2 separate regions of the Homo sapiens genome follow, and region 2 is linked to region 1. Evidence: fine-mapped expression QTL. A gene starts in region 1. The other region holds a variant in brackets. All regions are shown on one strand. Distances are between the middles of the regions. Region 1 holds the start of PATE2 (prostate and testis expressed 2). Region 2 overlaps PKNOX2 (PBX/knotted 1 homeobox 2).

Evidence for each region.
Region 2: its variant is fine-mapped to the expression of PATE2 in cerebellar hemisphere (GTEx, PIP 0.97).

What each region holds. Positions count from the first base shown.
Region 1 is chr11:125,774,157-125,784,475 of GRCh38, reverse strand. PATE2 (prostate and testis expressed 2) reads left to right here and starts at 5,648. Exons shown (of 4, transcript NM_212555.3): 1 at 5,648-5,754; 2 at 5,901-5,924; 3 at 6,474-6,602; 4 at 6,958-8,363. The coding sequence starts at 5,703. The coding sequence ends at 7,094.
Region 2 is chr11:125,401,198-125,411,516 of GRCh38, reverse strand. It overlaps PKNOX2 (PBX/knotted 1 homeobox 2), which reads right to left. Exons shown (of 13, transcript NM_001382323.2): 8 at 1,192-1,321; 9 at 641-738. Among named protein-coding and RNA genes, the nearest start is that of FEZ1, 90 kb to the left of the region's middle. RefSeq lists an enhancer at 1,564-2,763. The variant G/A (reference allele first, on the strand shown) is at 5,655.

The sequences.
Region 1 (10,319 bases):
TTCAATTCCCACCTATGAGTGAGAACATACGGTGTTTGATTTTCTGTCCTTGCGATAGTTTGCTGAGAATGATGGTTTCCAGCTTCATCCACGTCCCTACAAAGGACATGAACTCATCCTTTTTTATGGCTGCATAGTATTCCATGGTGTATATGTGCCACATTTTCTTAATCCAGTCTATCATTGTTGGACATTTGGGTTGGTTCCAAGTCTTTGCTATTGTAAATAGTGCCGCAGTAAACATACGTGTGCATGTGTCTTTATAGCAGCATGATTTATAATCCTTTGGGTATATACCCAGTAATGGGATGGCTGGGTCAAATGGTATTTCTAGTTCTAGATCCTTGAGGAATCTCCACATTGTCTTCCACAATGGTTGAACTAGTTTACAGTCCCACCAACAGTGTAAAAGTGTTCCTATTTCTCCACATCCTCTCCAGCACCTGTTGTTTCCTGACTTTTTAATGATTGCCATTCTAACTGGGGTGAGATGGTATCTCATTGTGTTTTTGATTTGCATTTCTCTGATGGCCAGTGATGATGAGCATTTTTTCATGTGTCTGTTGGCTGCATAAATGTCTTCTTTTGAGAAGTGTCTGTTCATATCCTTCACCCACTTTTTGATGGGGTTGTTTGTTTTTTTCTTGTAAATTTGTTTGAGTTCTTTGTAGATTCTTTGTCAGATGAGTAGATTGCAAAAATTTTCTCCCATTCTGTAGGTTGCCTGTTCACTCTGATGATAGTTTCTTTTGCTGTGCAGAAGCTCTTTAGTTTAATTAGATCCCATTTGTCAATTTTGGCTTTTGTTTTCATTGCTTTTGGTGTTTTAGTCATGAAGTCCTTGCCCATGCCTATGTCCTGAATGGTATTGCCTCGGTTTTCTTCTAGGGCTTTTATAGTTTTAGGTCTAACATTTAAGTCTTCAATCCATCTTGAATTAATTTTTGTATAAGGTGTAAGGAAGGGATCCAGTTTCAGCTTTCTACATATGGCTAGCCAGTTTTCCCAGCACCATTTATTAAATAGGGAATCCTTTCTCCATTTCTTGTTTTTGTCAGGTTTGTCAAAGATTAGATGGTTGTAGATGTGTGATATTATTTCTGAGGGCTCTGTTTTGTTCCATTGGTTTATATCTCTGTTTTGGTACCAGCACCATGCTGTTTTGGTTACTGTAGCCTTGTAATATAGTTTGAAGTCAGGTAGTGTGATGCCTCCAGCTTTGTTCTTTTGGCTTAGGATTGTCTTGGCAATGAGGGCTCTTTTTTGGTTCCATATGAACTTTAAAGTAGTTTTTTCCAATTCTGTGAAGAAAGTCATTGGTAGCTTGATAGGGATGGCATTGAATCTATAAATTACCTTGGGCAGTATGGCCATTTTCACGATATTGATTCTTCCTACCCATGAGCATGGAATGTTCTTCCATTTGTTTGTGTCCTCTTTTATTTTGTTGAGCAGTGGTTTGTAGTTCTCCTTGAAGGGGTCCTTCACATCCCTTGTCAGTTGGATTCCTAGGTATTTTATTCTCTTTGAAGCAATTGTGAATGGGAGTTCACTCATGATTTGGCTCTCTGTCTGTTTTTGGTGTATAGGAATGCTTGTGATTTTTGCACGTTGATTTTGTATCCTGAGACTTTGCTGAAGTTGCTTATCAGTTTAAAGAGATTTTGGGCTGAGATGACTGGGTTTTCTAAATATACAATCATGTCATCTGCAAACAGGGACAATTTGACTTCCTCTTTTCCTAATTGAATACCCTTTATTTCTTTTTCCTGCCTGATTGCCCTGGCCAGAACTTCCAACACTATGTTGAATAGGAGTGGTGAGAGAGGGCATCCTTGTCTTGTGCCAGTTTTCAAAGGAAATGCTTCCAGTTTTTGCCCATTCAGTATGATATTGGCTGTGAGTTTGTCATAAATAGCTCTTATTATTTTGAGGTACATCCCATCAATACCTAGTTGATTGAGAGTTTTTAGCATGAAGGGCTGTTGAATTTTGTCAAAGGCCTTTTTTGCATCTATTGAGATAATCATGTGGTTTTTGTCTTTGGTGCTGTTTATATGCTGGATTACATTTATTGATTTGCATATGTTGAACCAGCCTTGCATCCCAGGGATGAAGCCAACTTGATAGTGGTGGATAAGCTTTTTGATGTGCTGCTGGATTCGGTTTGCCAGTATTTTATTGAGGATTTTTGCATTGATGTTCCTCAGGGACAGTGGTCTAAAATTCTCTTTTTTGTTGTTGTGTCTCTGCCAGGCTTTGGTATCAGGATGATGCTGGCCTCATAAAATGAGTTAGGGAGTATTCCCTCTTTTTCTATTGATTGGAATAGTTTCAGAAGGAATGGCACTAGCTCCTCTTTGTACCTCTGGTAGAATTCAGCTGTGAATCCGTCTGGTTCCGGACTTTTTTTGGTTGGTAGGCTATTAATTATTGCCTCAATTTCAGAGCCTGTTATTGGTCTATTCAGGGATTCAACTTCTTCCTGATTTGGTCTTGGGAGGGTGTATGTGTCCAAGAATTTATCCATTTCTTCTAGATTTTCTAGTTTATTTGTGTAGAGGTGTTTATAGTATTCTCTGATGGTAGTTTGTATTTCTGTGGGATTGGTGGTGATATCCCCTTTATCATTTTTTATTGCGTCTATTTGATTCTTCCCTCTTTTCTTCTTTATTAGTCTTGCTAGTGGTCTATGAATTTTGTTGATCTTTTCAAAAAACCAGCTCCTGGATTCATTGATTTTTTAAAGGGTTTTTTATGTCTCTATCTCCTTCAGTTCTGCTCTGATCTTAGTTATTTCTTGCCTTCTGCTAGCTTTTGAATGTGTTTGCTCTTGCTTCCCTAGTTCTTTCAATTGTGATGTACACATACAATATTAACCTTAAATGTAAATGGGCTAAATGCTCCAATTAAAAGACACAGACTGGCAAATTGGATAAAGAGTCAAGACCCATCTGTGTGCTGTATTCAGGAGACCCATCTCACGAGCAGAGACACATGTAGGCTCAAAATAAAAGGATGGAGAAAGATCTACCAAGCAAAAGGAAAACAAAAAAAGGCAGGGGTTGCAATTCTAGTCTCTGATAAAACAGACTTTAAACCAACAAAGATCAAGAGACAAAGAAGGCCATTACATAATGGTAAAGGGATCAATTCAACAAGAAGAGATAACTATCCTAAATATTTAAGCACCCAATACAGGAGCACCCAGATTCATAAAGCAAGTCCTTAGAGACCTACAAAGAGACTTAGACTCCCACACAATAATAATGGGAGACTTTAACACCCCACTGTCAACATTAGACAGATCAATGAGACAGAAGGTTAACAAGGATATCCAGGACTTGAACTCAGCTCTGCACCAAGCACACCTAATAGACATCTACAGAACTCTCCACCCCAAATCAACAGAATATACATTCTTCTCAGCACCACATCACGCTTATTCCAAAATTGACCACATAGTTGGAAGTAAAGCACTCCTCAGCAAATGTAAAAGAACAGAAGTTATATCAAACTGTCTCTCAGACCACAGTGCAATCAAACTAGAACTCAGGATTAAGAAACTCACTCAAAACCACTCAACTACAAGGAAACTGAACAAGCTGCTCCTGAATGACTACTGGGTACATAACGAAATGAAGGCAGAAATAAAGATGTTCTTTGAAATGAATGAGAACAAAGACACAACATACCAGAATCTCTGGGACACATTTAAAGCAGTGTGTAGAGGGAAATTTATAGCACTAAATGCCCACAAGAGAAAGCAGGAAAGATATAAAATTGACGAGCTATTGTCTAATTTTATTCCTTACTGATATATTAAGTTACAGCCCCATCAGCAATGTATGACAGTGCTCATTTTACTCCATCTTGCCAACACAGTTGTGTTACTAAATTCTGATTATTGCAAATCTGTTAAGTAAAACTAATATCCTAAAATTAGGAGCAAGGTTCACCATATTTCATGTGTTTAAGAAGCATTTCTGTTTCTTTTTTCTGTGAACTATGACATTATTATTGACTGCGTCTCTCCCCTTTGAATTGTTAATCTTTTAAAAATCAATTTCTGGAATATCTTTGTATAATAGGGAGATTCGCCCTTAGTCTGAGATATGAGTTGCAAATATTTTTAATGGTTTATTTGTTATTTGGTCTTTGCTTATGGATTAATGATTGGTTTTCCATCTATGTAGAAGATTTTTTAAAAATATAGATAAACATATCTTTTTTATGGTTCTGTTTTTTGAGCCATATATAGAAAAGTAACCCTCACACTAGACTATAGAAACTCCTTCCATTTTATTTTCTGGCACTTCACTGTTCATTTATACCCTCCAGGTGGGCAGCAAGTCCAGGATATTAAACACGGTTTCATTGATTTTCTTTGTAAATCTGCCTAAGTAGCATAGCATTTCACTTTGAAATGTGAAACACTTGCTACCTACTATCTTGGGACCCTTGCTGGAATGTAGAAAGTCTCATTTCTTGTCTTTATTATAGTTCAAAAAACCAGTCTGATAAAGCTGGATGCTCTGTGGAGAATGGACTGGAGGGATGCAAGGCAGGATATGGGAAGAACATTATTAATTCCTCCCACAAATATTTGTTGGGCATTTCCTTTGTTCCCAGCCTCTAGATGCCAAGTGTGCCATGATAAACCAAAGAAACCCCTTGCTTTGTTCTAGTGGAGGAGTAAAAAAGTGAGCCAATAGCAATGTAAGATCAGCTTATTAGAATTGCAATGAAACATACCACAGGGAAAAAGGTAGGAAATGAAGGCTGTCATTTTCTAGAGATTAAGCAGAAAATGCTGCTCTGTCTGAGGGAGTGACATTTGAGCAAAGACCTGAGTGAGCCAGGGAAATGTGGAGAGAAAGGAGATTGGAGGGGAGGCCATTGCTCATAATGACAAAGCCATTGCCGGCTATGATAAAAACTCTGGATTTTCTTTCAAAGGTAATAAAAAGTCGTCAGAGTGTTTTCAGCAGGGGTGTGGCATCTATGACTTGTTCTCTGACTGCTTTATGAAGAAATGATTATGAAGGGGCAGAGGAGAAGCATGGAGGCCAGAAATAAGGCCATTGCTTGGTCCAGGCAAGACATAATAGACTGGATTATGGTAATGGCAGTGGCGACAGAGAATAATAAACCCATGTGAGAAGTTAGTAGGTAGAATGGATAAGACTTGCTGTTAGATTGCTCAATGAGGATGAAACACAAGAAGATGTAAAGAACACCTCCCAGATGTATTAAAACCTGCAACATTGTGAGGAGAGACTGGGCAGGACTGAATAACTGTTGGGTGCTATGTTCACTACCTGGGTGACGGGATCATTCGTACCCCAAACCTCAGCATCAAGCCATATACCCCTGTAACAACCCTGCACATGTACCCCCTGAATCTAAAATGAAAGTTGAAAATACTTTTTAAAACTCTGCAATATTGAAGTAGGAGCAGGTCTGGTGAATCAGGAACATTACCATTTCATTTTCATTAGAGGATTTGCACAAAATCAAAGTGAGTACCCTCTTTAGAATGCTGTGCAGCAATCAGATATGGTGGTTTGGCTTGGAACATTGCCATACTGCCTGTCCCTGAAATTTTATGATTATATAATTTAGATGACTAGCCCAAGGACAGATCACAAGAGAACAACTTGCTCCTTCCACAGGAAGCTGCACCTGACAGAAGCTCCAGGATGCTTGTTCTCTTTCTCCTGGGCACAGTCTTTCTGCTCTGCCCATATTGGGGTAAGTCCTGGAGACAGAGGGGAAGCTGGTGGTTGGTTAAGAGACGGACAGATGCTGGGGGAAGAGAAAGTTTTCAAAATTGGCTCTTGGGGCAGTGGCAGATGTATGTGAGACTGTAACATGGAAGGTTTTTCTTCTTTTCACAGGTGAACTTCATGACCCTATAAAAGGTACAATCATGGCTTCTCTGAAGTCCTTGGTAAACAGGCAATTTGTGACATGTTTAGGAGCAAACCTTTCCTTCATCTTCAGAGAGGCCTGTAATCCATTCTTATTATAGAATCCTAGGGGTTTCGCCTCCTGCCAGACCTGTTTTGTCCATTTCTTAGAGTAAGGAGGCTAAGATCCACTTTACTTTCTTTTACCCATTACTCGGCAAAATCATCAGGCTAGATAAGGGGTTCATTACTGGAGGTCCATGGATAAATTTCATGGGAACCCTGACCTCCTGAAATCATATACAGTGTTTGATTTATGTTTGTACAGGTTATCTTTCACAAGATTTTTTTAATTGGAGAAAATGTGTACAAATTTATTAATGTGTACATGGGGAGGACCGCAGCATGATTATCCCTATCTTTCTCAAGATTACCAAGAGTCCATGGTCCAAAAAATGTTAGGAACCACTAGGCAAGAATAAGGTCCTGTAGTGAAGCCCCCAGCCCCAGAGAATATTCTCAAGACTGCATCCTCTAAGCACCTCTTTTTGTATCTGGCAGCGACTGAAATAATGTGTTATGAATGTAAAAAATATCATCTTGGGTTATGCTATGGTGTCATGACATCCTGCTCCCTGAAGCATAAACAGTCCTGTGCAGTTGAGAACTTTTACATCCTTACAAGGAAAGGTAATGTGGAGTATAGAGTGACTGGAAAATCACCACCACCATCCCTGAGAAACAGTAGTGTTCTTTTGCCCTCAGCGTGAGTAGGTGAATGGGATGGGTGAGTATGGGGTGGTCTTGAGGGGATGGCAAAGACAGACTTTTCCCTAAGACCATATTGAGTGAAAAAGAGGCTGATGTCCCTTACCTGGCAGGGAATAAAATCTACTCTCTGGGTCAGCAATTAACAGACTCAGCTTTGGAACTCATTTGGGCCTAGAGAAAGGTTAGTGAGGACACAAAAACAGATTACTCCTAGGAACGCAGTAAAAGGAAATGAGGTCATTATGATCATATTTCCTCTCTTTTACCTCCTCAGGGCAGAGCATGTATCATTATTCAAAACTGTCGTGTATGACCAGCTGTGAGGACATCAACTTCCTGGGGTTCACGAAGAGGGTAGAGCTCATCTGTTGTGATCATAGTAACTACTGCAACCTCCCTGAGGGAGTTTAGTTCTACGTCTCTCCTGGATTTTGGGTTCTTTTTCAACCACTACGCTCTTTTTCTCTTCCCTGAACCTGAATTTTGCTCTCCTCTTCTATGCATTGGTAGAGAGTGAGAAAGCCAGCTCATAGTGAAAAGACAAGCAGGCATAAGGAGACGCAGTGTGGACAGCGGAGCCTATTGATGATGGAGCACTAGACTCACTCTTTGCACATCCCTGTCGCTAACAGGTGGGAGGGGTTTTGCTCTCCTTACGTGATACTGCCATGAATAAGCTCAGACTTGGTCATTTATTATCTCCTGTATGAAAATGTGAACACTTGGGCCATAATAATCTCCAATTTGTACTGAGAATTCTGTGACTATCCTCTATCCTCATCTACACACACACTCCTCTCCGTTGGAATTCTCTTTGGATTAGCCCTGACACTTTCTGGCACTGTCCTTTTCTGCCCGTGGGTTCTGGAGAGGGCTAACCCCAGCTTCCCAGTGTGTTGGCAGCATGGGCCAAGTCTTTCTCTGATAGAGCTCTTGGGGGAACCTCAGGGCAGAAAAAAAAAAACTGAACAGACATAGGGATGAGCATCAAAGAAAACTTCAGGGGGCATTTCAACTGGTAAAAACTAAGATCTGAGAAATAACTTGCTGTGGGTGGAATTGGCTTGAATTATCATTGCCCTGGCTGGCCAGGCAGCCTTGGGCACATGGTTGAACTAGGTGATTGGATTGGGAACAGAGTGTTTTTTTAAGGATGGCTAGTCAGGTTCTTCTCATGGGACTGAGCAAACAAAATGCTGATAATGTGGCAGGTGGTGTAGTAGTTGAAGATAATAGGATGTAAATAGATACCATGAGGTAGTGTTCAAGTAACAGAGTGCCCTGTGTAAGAGGAAGTTATGAGTTTGCAGAAAGTGTGAGAAAGGTAGCATATATGGGTAACAGTGGTGGGAAGAGAAGAAGGAAGACACAGAAACAGATAGGAAGAGAAACTGAGTAGCATTGATGTTGGAGCACACCTGTGGCCAAGGTGGCACATTTTCCTTGGATACACACTAACCCTGGTGTTTCTGTCCTTATAAGGCTGACTGCACCCTAGATGACGGGTTGATGGGTGCAGCAAACCACCATGGCACATGTATACCTATGTAACAAACCTGCATGCTGCACTTTCTTTCATGTATCCCAGAACTTAAAGTAAAATAAAAAAATAAATAAATAAATAAAGGCCAGAAAAATTGGCCAAAAAATCTGAATAGAAAAAGATATACAGATAGTAAATGAGCATATGAAAATATGCTTAACATCATATCTCACTAGGGAATTGCAAATTAAAACAACAATATTACGCAACTATACATTTTAAATGGTCAAAATCAAAAAAATAAAAAACCCTCACAGTAGCAATTTTTGTCAAAGATATAGAGCAATAGGAAATCTCATTTATTGCTGGCAGGAATGCAAAATGGTAATGCTGTTTTGGAAGACAGTTGGTAGTTTCTTAGAGAGGTGATTATACTCTTGCTATGTCATTCAGTAATCATGCCTTTAGATATTTACTCAACCAATTTGAACAGTTATGCCCACACAGAAACCTGCACACAAATGTTAAAATCATATTTATTCATAATTGCCTGAGACTAGAAGCAATAAAGATGCCCATCAATAAGTGAATGGATATGTAATCTATGGTACATCCAAACAGTGGGATGCTACTCAATGATGAAAAGAAATGATCTATCAAGCTATGAAAGGACATGGATACATTTTTAAATGAATATTGCTAAGTTAATGAAGCCAGTCTGAAAAGGCTACATACAGATGCTCCTCAACTTATGATGGGGTTATATCCTGTTATAACAATTGCAAGTTGAAAATACTGTGAACTGAAAATGCATTTAAAACACTTAACCTTCCAAACATCATAGCTTAGCCTAGCCTACCTTAAATGTGCTCAGGATGTTTACATTAGCCTATAGTTGGGCAAAAGCATCTAACACAAAGCCAATTTTATAATTGGCTTTGAGTATCTCATGTAATTGAGTATTTCATGTAATTTATTGACTACTCTACTGAAAGTAAAAAACAGAATGCTTGTATGGGTACTAAAGTATGGCTTCTACTGAATGCTTATTGCTTTCACACATCTTAAAGTTTAAAAAACTTGTAAGTCAAATCATTGTAAGTCTGGGAACATGTGTACTCTGATTCCAATTTTGTAAAAGACCAAAGTATAGGGTTGGTGAAAATATCAATGACTGCCAGTGGATTAAGAGGAAAAAAGGGATTGAATAGGTAAAGTATAAAAGATTTTTTAGGGTGATGAATCTATTCTGTATGATACTATACCAGTAAATACATGACACTATGCACTTGTCAAACCCCATAGAACTTTACTGCACAAAGAATGAAACAATGTATGAGAATTAAAAGAAAAATCATTTAGGAAGTCAGAGGATTCCAGGAAGGAATGCACAATGTGACAAAAATGATGTAACTGTTACAAATGTGTGAAACAATCTCTCTGAGTTGAGTTGGGGGAAAAGTTTCTGATCTGAGTAACTTTGTAAATGAGTGGAGCCTGTAAGCTTAAAGGCAAAAGAAAATGTACACAAGCTCTGCACTCTACTTGATAAAATTGTTTTCCCCAAGGTTATAGGTTAATAATTCTGATACTGCTCTACAGGTACACTGTAATTGAACTCCTAAGCAAATGAATGGGGGCTGGGGGAATCCAGGTTTCTCACTGTTGGAGTTAGAAGTTACAGATAAGCAAGAGAAAGGTGCTAGAATGATCAATGAGGTAATGAATTAGACATCAGTATGAATTCATATTTAGTTAAATATAAATACAGATTATTTATAAATATGTATATAAAAGAAATATTTATAAATATGTATATTTATGAGTTATTATACATACATATATTTCCTTGCTCTGTCAAATAACAATAACAATAGTAATGAGTACCCCTAGCACCCAGACTGTGGTTTCTAATACCATTCTCAAAAAAAAAAAAGAAATCAGAAGTCCTTGGAGAAATGGCTGATTGTAGGACTGGGGCAGGAAATTAAATGAAGAGAAGATGAGCCTGTAAATCTGAGGGAGTATATCAGAGGGAAATAGGAACAAACAGAGAGATCTCCCCATGGCCCAAACTGGATCAATTTGAATGACAAAATAAATGAGCCCAAAGGTTAAAATAAATTACCATGAATACAAGATGAATGCATAAA
Region 2 (10,319 bases), 370 kb after region 1:
GGGGGGGAGAGAGAGAGAGAGAGAGAGAGAGAGAGAGAGAGAGAGAGAGAGAGAAAGACAGAGGAAACAGGGCCATGCAGAGAGAACAGGAGAAGATATGAATTTGCCATAAGCTGTCAAGTAGTTATCAGCATTTCTGTGGTACTTTACAGTTTGCAAAGCACTTTCCTATCCATCGCTGTGGTTCATTCTCACAGCAGCCCTGTAGGTTGGCTAGGCTGTGTGCAGTTGCTATTAATCCCCCTTTTATCAATAAGAAGTCTGAGGCTCAGAGAGGTTAGGTGACTTATCAGAGATCCCAGAGTTAATGTCAGATCCCAGACTCTGACTTCCGATCTTTCTACTCTTCCTTTGTGTGTGCACTCTCTACCACTGAGGGACACAGCGGCTCAGTCTGCAGACAGGAATAGGAAGTGCAGGATCCTTTGATGTAACCCCAGGAGGGAGGCAGCAAAATCCCAGGAGTTGATAAAACCTTTCCAAGACCCAGCTTCTTATCTGTAAAGTAGGGGTAATGATACCTCTTAGAGGATGATGAGGATTCAATGAGTCACCCGTGTAAAGTGCCTGGCAGATAAGAAGCGATTACAGGTGCCCTAGCCCACACCATGCACATGTGCACACACCTACACACACTCACCTGTGTGTTCTGGATCTGGATGGCTCCCTGGGGGATTGCTTGGGTGACCACCTGACCCTGGGAGGTTACCATGGTAACCGGTTGGTATAAGGCTCCACCTGAGGAGACAACCAGTTTTGGGGTCCCCTGCCATGGGAGTGGGTAGGAGCGAGGGCAAGCAGGGTTCCCAGTTCATTTGGCACTCATGTGTAAAGACCCTCTACTTGGAGCCCTTGGGTAGCGAGCTATGGCTTTCTGCTTTATGGGTGGGTGGGGGATGGTGTCTAGAGCCTAGGACAGAGCCTCTGGTGGGAGGTGCTTCGGGGAAGGGACAACAGCCTTACTTGGTCCTCTCAGGGGCTCATGAGATTTTGACCCAAATTTGTTCTAAACCATCACAATTGGGTCTTGGCGCTAACCGTCTATAAACTTACAGAAAACTTTAGTCAAGAAACTGAGCTGGGAGCCCCTCCCTCGGTGGAGGACAACCCCCACCCCTGGAACCGCCTCGGGGCCACCCTTTCTCCTCCCAGGGAATTCCCACAATCACCCTTCCCAGTCTTTGCACCGACCTGACACAACTTGTGAGTTGACGGTTGTCATGGCGATGTTGCCCTGCTGGAGCGCTGAGGCTGGGACCACAATCCCCTGGGGGTTATTGGAGACTCCGGACATGGAATTGGGGGAATTCTGCAGGAGGTCCTGGCAGTGAGGGAGGCGTGGTTTGTGACAATGACACTGAGAGCTTAGACCCTACAGCCCCAGAGTCCTCTTCCGTCCTTTCCCCTTCCTGCCTGCCCCCCTCCCTCCTTCTAGCTCCTCCCCAGACCCAGGTCCAGAAGGCAACTCTCTTGGTTTCCTAGAAAGGGTGAATAAGAAGGCTCAATTAAAAAAAACAAAAACAAAAAGAGTCACCCATTTAACCATTCCATTGCCCTGAAAACCTAAGGCACAAATTATCTGATAACCCCCATGGTCTCCTCCTTGGCTGTACTTTGAAATCTCCAGTAATGATGCTTGGGTTCCAATCTCAGAGAGTCTCATTTAATTGTTCAGGAGTGTGTCCTGGGCTCTGGATTTTTTCTTGATCAGATCCATCATATTCAATGGGCTCCGGGTTATTAAAAGCTCCCCAGGTGATTCCACTGTCAGCCGGGTCTGAGAAAATGGCTTCACCTGGTCGGCACCTGCTCATCCTTCAGCGACGCTTGTCTCCTGATGCTTTCCCGTCCCCCGGCTGCTCTCCACACACCTCCATCACAGGCCTGTCACACTAGGCTGCACACACAGAGCAGCCTCCAGCTCTCACCTTTGTATCCTTAGCACCTAGCTCAGGATACTAAAATACATGTTAAATAAGCAAATGAAAGCCGCCCTAGCCTTCCCATAACCTGTCTTCTAAGGGTGTCTCATATGAGCCTCAGCCACCTTCGGCACATGGCATCGATCCTGTTCTCTTCCTCAGGCTGCCCACAGGATTCCACTGGAAACAGACTCTCCTCTCCCCACACTGCCGACCAGCACGGAACCTTTGCCGCTTTTCTTTGCGTTAGCCCAGGCAGGTAAGACATGTTTTCCTGGCCCTCTGCTCTCCTCACCATTCCTAGTTAACAGCTGGGTAAAGAAGTCCTTGGACTTGCTGTGGAGCCCTCCCTGCTTTCTGGGGAGCCTGCACTGGGAGGCTGGGTGCTTGGAGAGAATTTGTGAGGAAGGAATAGGATGTGGGAGAGGTTAGGGTCTCTAGGTTCGGAGAAGAAAAAAGGCAGCGAGTGAAGTGTGGGAGCCTCAGGAGGCCTGCCTGAGTCTCTTAGCTCCTCCTAGCCACGGTTCCTCATCTGAAGACGGGGCTTGAACCAGTTAACAGGTCCAATGGCCATTTCGGCGACATTCCCATGCTCAAATGCTGGAATCGTAAGGCGTGAACTGCAAGGATTTAGAGACAGGTAAATGGTCAAGGAAATAGACAAAATGGGGCAAAAAAGAAGGCCCCAGCTTCCCGGTTTTTGTTTTAGGACTTGAAGAAGCTTGGGTCTTCAGCCTCCAGGGCAAGTCTAGGGTTTTGAGCCCGGAAATCTGTGTTTGGAGGAAACCTCGAGCCAGTGACTGCCTACCTGTAGCAACGAAGGGAAAGTGTTACAGCCCGGGGGACAGCCATGGCGAATCTCCTCCCAGACCCTGACAACACAGAACCTGGCAGAGCCTGTCAGGAAGTGGAAGTCGGCACTGATTTATACATCTCACTCGATTCAGCTGATTAAATCCCCCTTGGCGTCTCCTCCAGAGCTGCCTTTTTTTACTCTCCTGGGTTGTCTCTGGCCCAAGAGCTGGAGGAGTATTTCCTATAAATAAGCAGCGCCAGGAGGAGAGGAGCCAAGCACGCCCTCCTCCCACCCACCTGCCGCACGGGCCTCCTGGTGTGGCTCCTCCGGGTGGGTGGGGCGATGGAGGCCTTGCTTCTATTCTGAGCTCACCTCTGCTGCTGTGACCTTGGGGAACAGAGGGGGCAGCTCTTGCCTTGGCTTCCCCTTCCTGGGGCCCCGTGGGAGCCGCCTAGCCCGTGAAGCTTATACTTTGAGCAGAGCTCTTGGCCTTTCTGTTCCTGCAGTCGCAGTCTAAAATGGAGTCTGCCATGCAGAAGCCTAGAAACTGGAAGAGCCCCTGGAAGCCACACATTTCCCCTCCCTGAAGTACAAATAAGGCACTGAGGTTTAGAGATGCCTGGGACTTCCCAAGGCCACACAGCCCGTTAGCAGCCAGAGGACTAGAACACAGATCTCCTTCACCCACAAATGCCCCCTACACCGGTTCTGGGCTGCAAATGCTCCTTGAATCCTGCAGGTCAACCAATCATCATTGCAGGCAAGGTGAACAGATAAAAACAACTAAAACTCAGAAGTCCAGAAGCAGCGTGGGCACTGGAGGAAAGGCAATCTCGTCACCACCCTTCTGTGGGCCTCATCTCCTTATGTATACAGTGCATGTGACACCGGGACCCTCAACGCCTGAGTTTTCAGCGATGAGACTGCTCTGAGTTTGAGTTCTCCTTGTTCCAACATCCCAGCCTACCATTCTCATGGTGTGTAAACCGTGCTGATATTATATTTGAAGCTGAAGCAAACTCGGAAGGTAAATTTACTTTTTTTTTTGTTTGTTTTTTGAGACAGGGTAGAGAGTCTTGCTCTGTTGCCCAGGCTTGTCTCAAACTTCTGGGGTCATGTAATCCTCCCACCTGAGCCTCCTGAGTCATGGGATTACAGGCGTGAGCCACCACACCAGGCTTGAAGGTAAATTTAATGGGGGAGTGGGTACCTCCATGCCATTCACCTTAAAACCAGTGGAAGTGACTTCTCAATCCCTTGTTTGGAATCATCCATGCTAGCCTGTGCCTCTTCTGGTAGGGATATTTGAGAATTTCAAACATAAAAGGTTGTCCTAGACTTTCTTCACCCCCAAAAAAGTACCCAACAAGGTTAGAAAAATACAAGCAAAGTCAGTAAAATAAATACAAGATGTGTCCCTTGGGATTCAACCAACACACATTGTTTCCTAGCCAAAGGCAGAGGGTGAGCCACCACCTGGATGCTTCGTCTGCTTACTCAGACCCTGGCTGCTTCTCCACCTTGTGGCTTGGATACCCTCCATGCCAATTTACCCAATTTGGGTAACTAAGGGCAATTTATGCATTGGATCAGAGCCTTCTCTTTCCTACCCTTCTCTCCCTTCCCTGGGTCTTTGGCTGGAAGGTGCTGAGAGGCAGCCAGATTCTATCAGTGAAGGAATAAAATAAAAACCTTCAGAGATAGAGTCCAAGGGCAGGGCTGGGACTGGCAACGTTTTAGGTGGGGCAGGGAAGAGGAAGCAAAATTTTGGCATCCCGGAGGTCTGGGGAAATGATATTCATCCCTTACATCTGTAAACATGAGCTGCTTCACAAACCTGCCTTGAGTGTGCTTTTTTTTTTTTTTTTTTTTTTTTTTTTTAGACATAGATTCTCAGGGCCACTGGGTCAAGACCCTCACCCATCATCTAGCAATCTATATTTCTAAAAACTTCCTTGTGATGGTCCCAAAGATCGTACACGCTGAGTATGAGAGAGCTTTCACCACGCTGTTCCATTTTAATGTCACCATCACCCCATGGGGTCAGCAGGACTGTCCTATTTGCCTGAAGAGAGATTGAGGTCCAGAGAGGATGGAAGTGACTTCCCAGAGTCAAATAACTGTGCCTCCAGCCTAAGGCCTCTGGCTCTGAGTGTAGGACGAGTGCTCACAGAGAGAGGATATGTGCTTCGGGGTCAGACAGGCTCCAATGCAAGCACAGTGCCTGGCACATTTAGCCATCCAATAATTTATTTCCCACTTCCCTTGGCTAAGGTCACTCAACTAGGGAGTCGTACAGTTGGGATTTAAAAACCTGTCCTAGAAGCCTTCAAGCCACTTGAGTTCTTTACGTAGCAATGGAAGGGGTTCAGCTGGGGTTGCGCACGCAGGCAGAGTTGTGCAAACCTGGCTACATGTCTCCCTGTCTGAGATGTTCCTGGGCAATGGTCGAGTCCCAGGATCCTAAGCATCGTCTCTGACTAGCCCCACAACTCCACTTGGCTGCGATTTCCAGTCCAGGCTTAGTCTCTAGAGCCGTGGAATGGAGACAAGGAGGGTCTGACTCTCTTTTCTGAGGAAGGAACTTCCAGAGCAGCGGTGGAAACCCCGTGGGGAGCACATGTTGGCTAAGCACACAGTATTATTAGCTTTTTGACAGCTTCCCCTCAGGGCTTATCAGACTCCAAACCCAGGTAGATGCCACTGTGTCTAGACACAGAGTTGCTCCCCTCTAGGCTCCTTAGCACCCAGATGGAAGTGAGAAGAGTGTTTGGTACGGTTCTAGTTACTTTTTTCAGCACCCAGAGCCTCACATCCCTGCTGGAATTATCCAGGAACCTGGGGATGACAGCTGGTTATCCAGCCCAAGAATTCTGTTCGTTTTGTTCCACTAGGAAGACAGCCGTGGTGTCCCCAAGCCTCTGGAAACTGCCTGA[G/A]GCCTGGGAATCAGATGAAAACCAACACGCCGGGCTCCATGGGCACCCCTGGAAGCGGCCCCACTCCTGTTCCTTGTGTGCTGTTGATTGAGACTCAGAAGCAGGAGCCTCTCAGGAGGGGCAGAGCAAGGCAGGGCTTTGGGTTTGGAATGGCAGAGAACTGGTGCCTCCCGAGCACCATCCTCTGGGCCAGCTGCAACACCCTGGAACTGCGACTGCCACTCATTCTTCACAGACCTCAGTGGTCCCCAGGGGAGTTTTACTCCAAATTGCATTTGGAACAGCAGAAAGATGACTTGTTCCAAAGGAAGGCCTTACTAAGAAACGATGAGAAGCTGTGGAATGACTTTTGGAAGTGGGGGGTGCAGGGGCCCACATGAATGCACAGCGGTCTCACGTCAGCCCAGGAAGAGCTGTCTGTCCCTGTGAGCCACCGTGCTTCATTTTTAATAGGGAAAGGGCTTGAACTGCCCTGGGAAACTCAAGGAAGACTTCATTTCCACTCAAGGAAGGAATTCCTGGAAGAAACCAGAATGGGACAAAGACATGAAGGAGTGAAGGAGATAAATGACAGAAAAGTTTCTGTTTAAGCTGTTTTGAAATAGGTGGAATTTTTATCTTACTTGGATGCCTGTGAAACAGGGGAATGAACGGGATGGCCTGGCAAAGATCCTTCCAGCTGAGGACTGTAAAAGAGCCCATGCCATTTCCTAAGGATTGTGTGGGAGGGTGGGTGACGGTGAGTCGGTGGCCGGAGTGGGGTGCAGTGCGGAGCCAGCCCCAGCCACCTGCCATCCTCCCCCCGGCCACTAGAGGTCTCTGCTGATCCACCGGCTCAGACCACACTCACCAAAGCCTCCCAGAAGGCGCGTGCTGGCGGCTCCCCTGCCTGGGCTCGGGGCGGGTGGGGGTCGGTTCTGAATGTCTCCTTTCTGCTGGAAAGCTTGTCCTGACCTCTCCAGGGCACAGCCGCGGCCCGTCCTCTGGACTCTTCAAAGCCTCCCATCTGCCTTACATACTGGACACAACAGAATGGTTCTCTCTAATGCAGGCGTCGTCTTTCCCTAGCTTGGTGGCAGGCTTTTTGAGGGAAAGAGGGGTCTTTCTCTGAATTCCCCGAAACTGCTTAGCGCAATGTTAAGTGCATGGTACATGCGAGATACATGTGTGGTCTGACTTTGGCCTAAGGCTGTGGGTGTATTCCTGTGTGTGGTGGTGTGTGTGTGTTTGTGTGTGTGTGATGTGTGTGTTTGTGTGTGTGCCCGCGCAAATGTGCCTTAGGAGGGTGGAGAGGTTGTCCCTGTCCCCAGACACCCCTTCCCGGCAGCATCCCTCCGTTCTGGCAGAGCCAGGGCCCTGTCTTAGACCAAGAAAAGCCAGATTCCCAAACTCGGGAAAGCCAAGCACATGTAAACAAGCCACCTAATCCTGTTCTTGTTCCACTCCTGTTGGGGGCCTTGGTCTCAAGGGAAAGGCAGTTCTGGCCTGTGGGGACAAGCAGCAGCTGCTGCTCTTAAGGAACATTCCTTCTCAGGCGGGAGAAGCGCTCAGGTTTCACTAGCCTGGCGGCAAAGGCCACCCTCTGGTCTCTGGGCTCCACGGCTGCAGGGCTGGGGGTGAGGAACCGGCAGAAGAGACAGCTTTAATGCCTGTGACAGGCAGTGTGGCTCATTTTATTCCACTTCAGTCTAGGGATGCCCCCTGTCCATCTAAGTAGTGATCTTTCCAGGGTAGATTGCCCCCTACCCCAGCCCCATCCAGTCTTCTCCCTGGTCCTGTCCTCAGGATGCTTAGCCACTGGGCAGAACCTCTAGGGTCCTGGCTGAGGTGATGGCCCCCTACCCCTTCCGCCCCCTGCCAATCTGGAAAATCCAAAATTCCTTAGAGGTCAATAGGCAAGTGCCACCCTTCTCAGGTGGGGATGCATTGATTAGCCCCCTTCCTATTCTGCTGGGGAGGCGCAGAGCTGCAGAGTCGCATCTGGCAGCTGGGCCTAGCATCTCAGAATGTCCTCAACTTTGTACCTCTCATTTCCCTACTTCCAGTCTACTAGCAAATCCAAATTCTTGCTTCGTAGCAATTGGCTTCTTCCTCTGTAGTCCCTACCCCACTGACCAATAGCTAGGTAGGGTCATCACTCTCCACCCAGGTCCCAGGACCCCTGATTCTTCTCCCCATGTGTCACAAAAACATATCCCCATGTAGCAAGAAGAACATGGGCTCTGGAGTAGCCCATCCCGGACTCCAGCACTTGCTAGGTGTGTGACTTTGAGCCAGGGTCTTCACTTCTCTCAGCTTCTCTTTTCTTGGATGTAAAATGGAGAAAATCATGTGTACCTTGCAGCCTGTCATGAAGAGTAAATTAGATAATCTGTGGAAAGCACCTAGTACACACCATGTTTGAGACAGAGGGGAGCTCAATAAATGTTCACCGTCTCCCCTCCTTCTGCCAGCTCTTCTTGGACCAATACAAGATGTGGCTGCTCAATTGATTTGTCTCCAGCGTGTCTCCAGCCCTGACCCTGTTGCCTACATTCTCCACTACCTTTAAAGTCTTTAGCAGTCGGCCACCACTATTAGCCCCAAAACAGAACTCCCACACATTTGGCTTCAAGGTACTCCATCATTACACTTGGAGACCTGGGACTGTGTCGCATCCATTTTTTATATCCCCAGAACTCAGTAGGCTCCAGAGGTGCCTGAATGGATGCAGGATGCGTGAATGAATGAGCCCCCTTCACCCCATCTCCTCTCTAGGGATTCTGATTGGCTCTCTCTGTTTCTCGCCTTCTTTCAGACTTCTTGCTACATTGGAAACACTCACCTTTATAAAGGTTGCCAAATAGGCTACCAACTCTCACCAAGCCTGCCTGAAATGCCACCTCCCAGAGGAAGCCCTCCCAAGGCCAATGAATCTGTAACTTCTCCAATCACAATGGGCAAAATCCTCCTGTTGTCCTCTCCACTCTGTACTGAGGTTTGTTTATCCTATTGTGGAGCAGGAACAAACTGGCCATGAAGGTGTGAGGGCTGGGTCTGGGACTTGGTCCCCCTCTGAGGAAGGATGAAGGATGCTGAGTTGAGACTGGGGCAACCTCAAGCCACACATGTGGATCACCCAATCCAGAATCCCTGCCTGCAGCTCCTCTCCCCATCTCTTTGGCTGCTCCTTTCCTCTGTACTCTTGACCCTGAGCATTTCACGGCTGACATGATTTATCTAGATCCTCATTGTGACTCATGGCTCTCTCTCCCTGAGACTGGGAGCTCCTCTTGGACAATGGCTTGTGTCTGTTCTCACAGGACCTAGCACAGAACATACAGTGAGTGCCCCCCAAACGCTTGGCAATTGAATGAGAACCATGATTCAATCCAATTTGCCTGGAATAGAGCTGAGGCTTAAATCTCCACAGAGAAAAAAGGATGAATTTCAGGTCAAACTAATACTTGAGTGAGGTGTCTCTCTAGTGGAATGGTTCCATTTGCGCCCTCTAGGAAGGACAGGAGAACCCAGAGTAGGGTCTAGAACCAGTCTCCTTACAGAGGATCCTGCCCCCACAAGAAGCCTGGGCTCTGAGGAGTAGGAAGCCTGGGTGTCATTGGGTGCCTGCAGCACAGGATGGGTTCCTAGGGAGGGGGAAAATCTAGCTGTGGCCCAGGTCTTTGAAAGTCTGCTTTAGTCCCCTGCTTGGTAGAACAGTCTCCCTTACTTCCCATCTCCACTTTGCCCAGCAGAGAAGACTCACACAGAGAAATCGAAGGCCGAGCAGGAAAACGCTCAACCCATCGATCTGGATGGAGGACACGGCATAGCATCTGGGAGTGGGGATACCAAGTTGAAAACAAAAATGTCTCCCGCTTTGCAACACAAGGCTGGATGATTAGCACACAGGGAAAACCATGAGCCAGCAGTTTGCAACAAAGCTGGCAGGCGGCTGGAATGTTGATCCAGAGGATCATGTTCCAGAGGGGAGACACCCCTCCCCAGGCCAGGCTGGTGCTCAGGCTATTTCAGGCCGGGGGGATTAAGGGTGAACCATGACGAATGCATGTGCCCGCGTGTGCACACACATACACACACACACACACACACACACTCACAAGCTCCTTTTCTCTCTCTCATACAGGCTCCTGTGTCTTGAACCCAAGACCTGCCTCCTGCACTGAAAGTCTCGGTCCCCGATTCTTAGCAGCCCTGGGCCTCTCCTTCCTGGGAGAGCCCATGCAAGCCCGGCCCCTACCTTAGTGCAATAATGACAGGGGCCTGTCCTGGGAAGGCTTAAGAGACGTGTGAGTGTGCAAGTGGGCCGAGGGATGGCCAGAGAAGGCAGGAGAGCAGGTTAGGAAGCTCCTGCCATAGCCTATGTGTAATTACCGTATTTACCCCTGAAGCCTGAGCAAAGCAGGCAGTGGCAGTCAGAGAAAATGCAGGGGCAAGTTTGAGTAATACAACAGGAGCAGCACATAGCACATCCTCCTGACTTTCCCGCCTCCTCGTACCCTGGCTGCGCACTGAGCCACATGCATTGTCCTTTCACTTGCTGTCACTCTTGCTGCCGTTCCTCTCTCCGTCTGTCCTTCTGCCCCGTCGTTCTCAGTATCGTCTCCCTTTTCCTGGGTTTGTGTGCCTCCCTGTCTCTCTCTCTTGCTCTTTTCCTCCAATTCT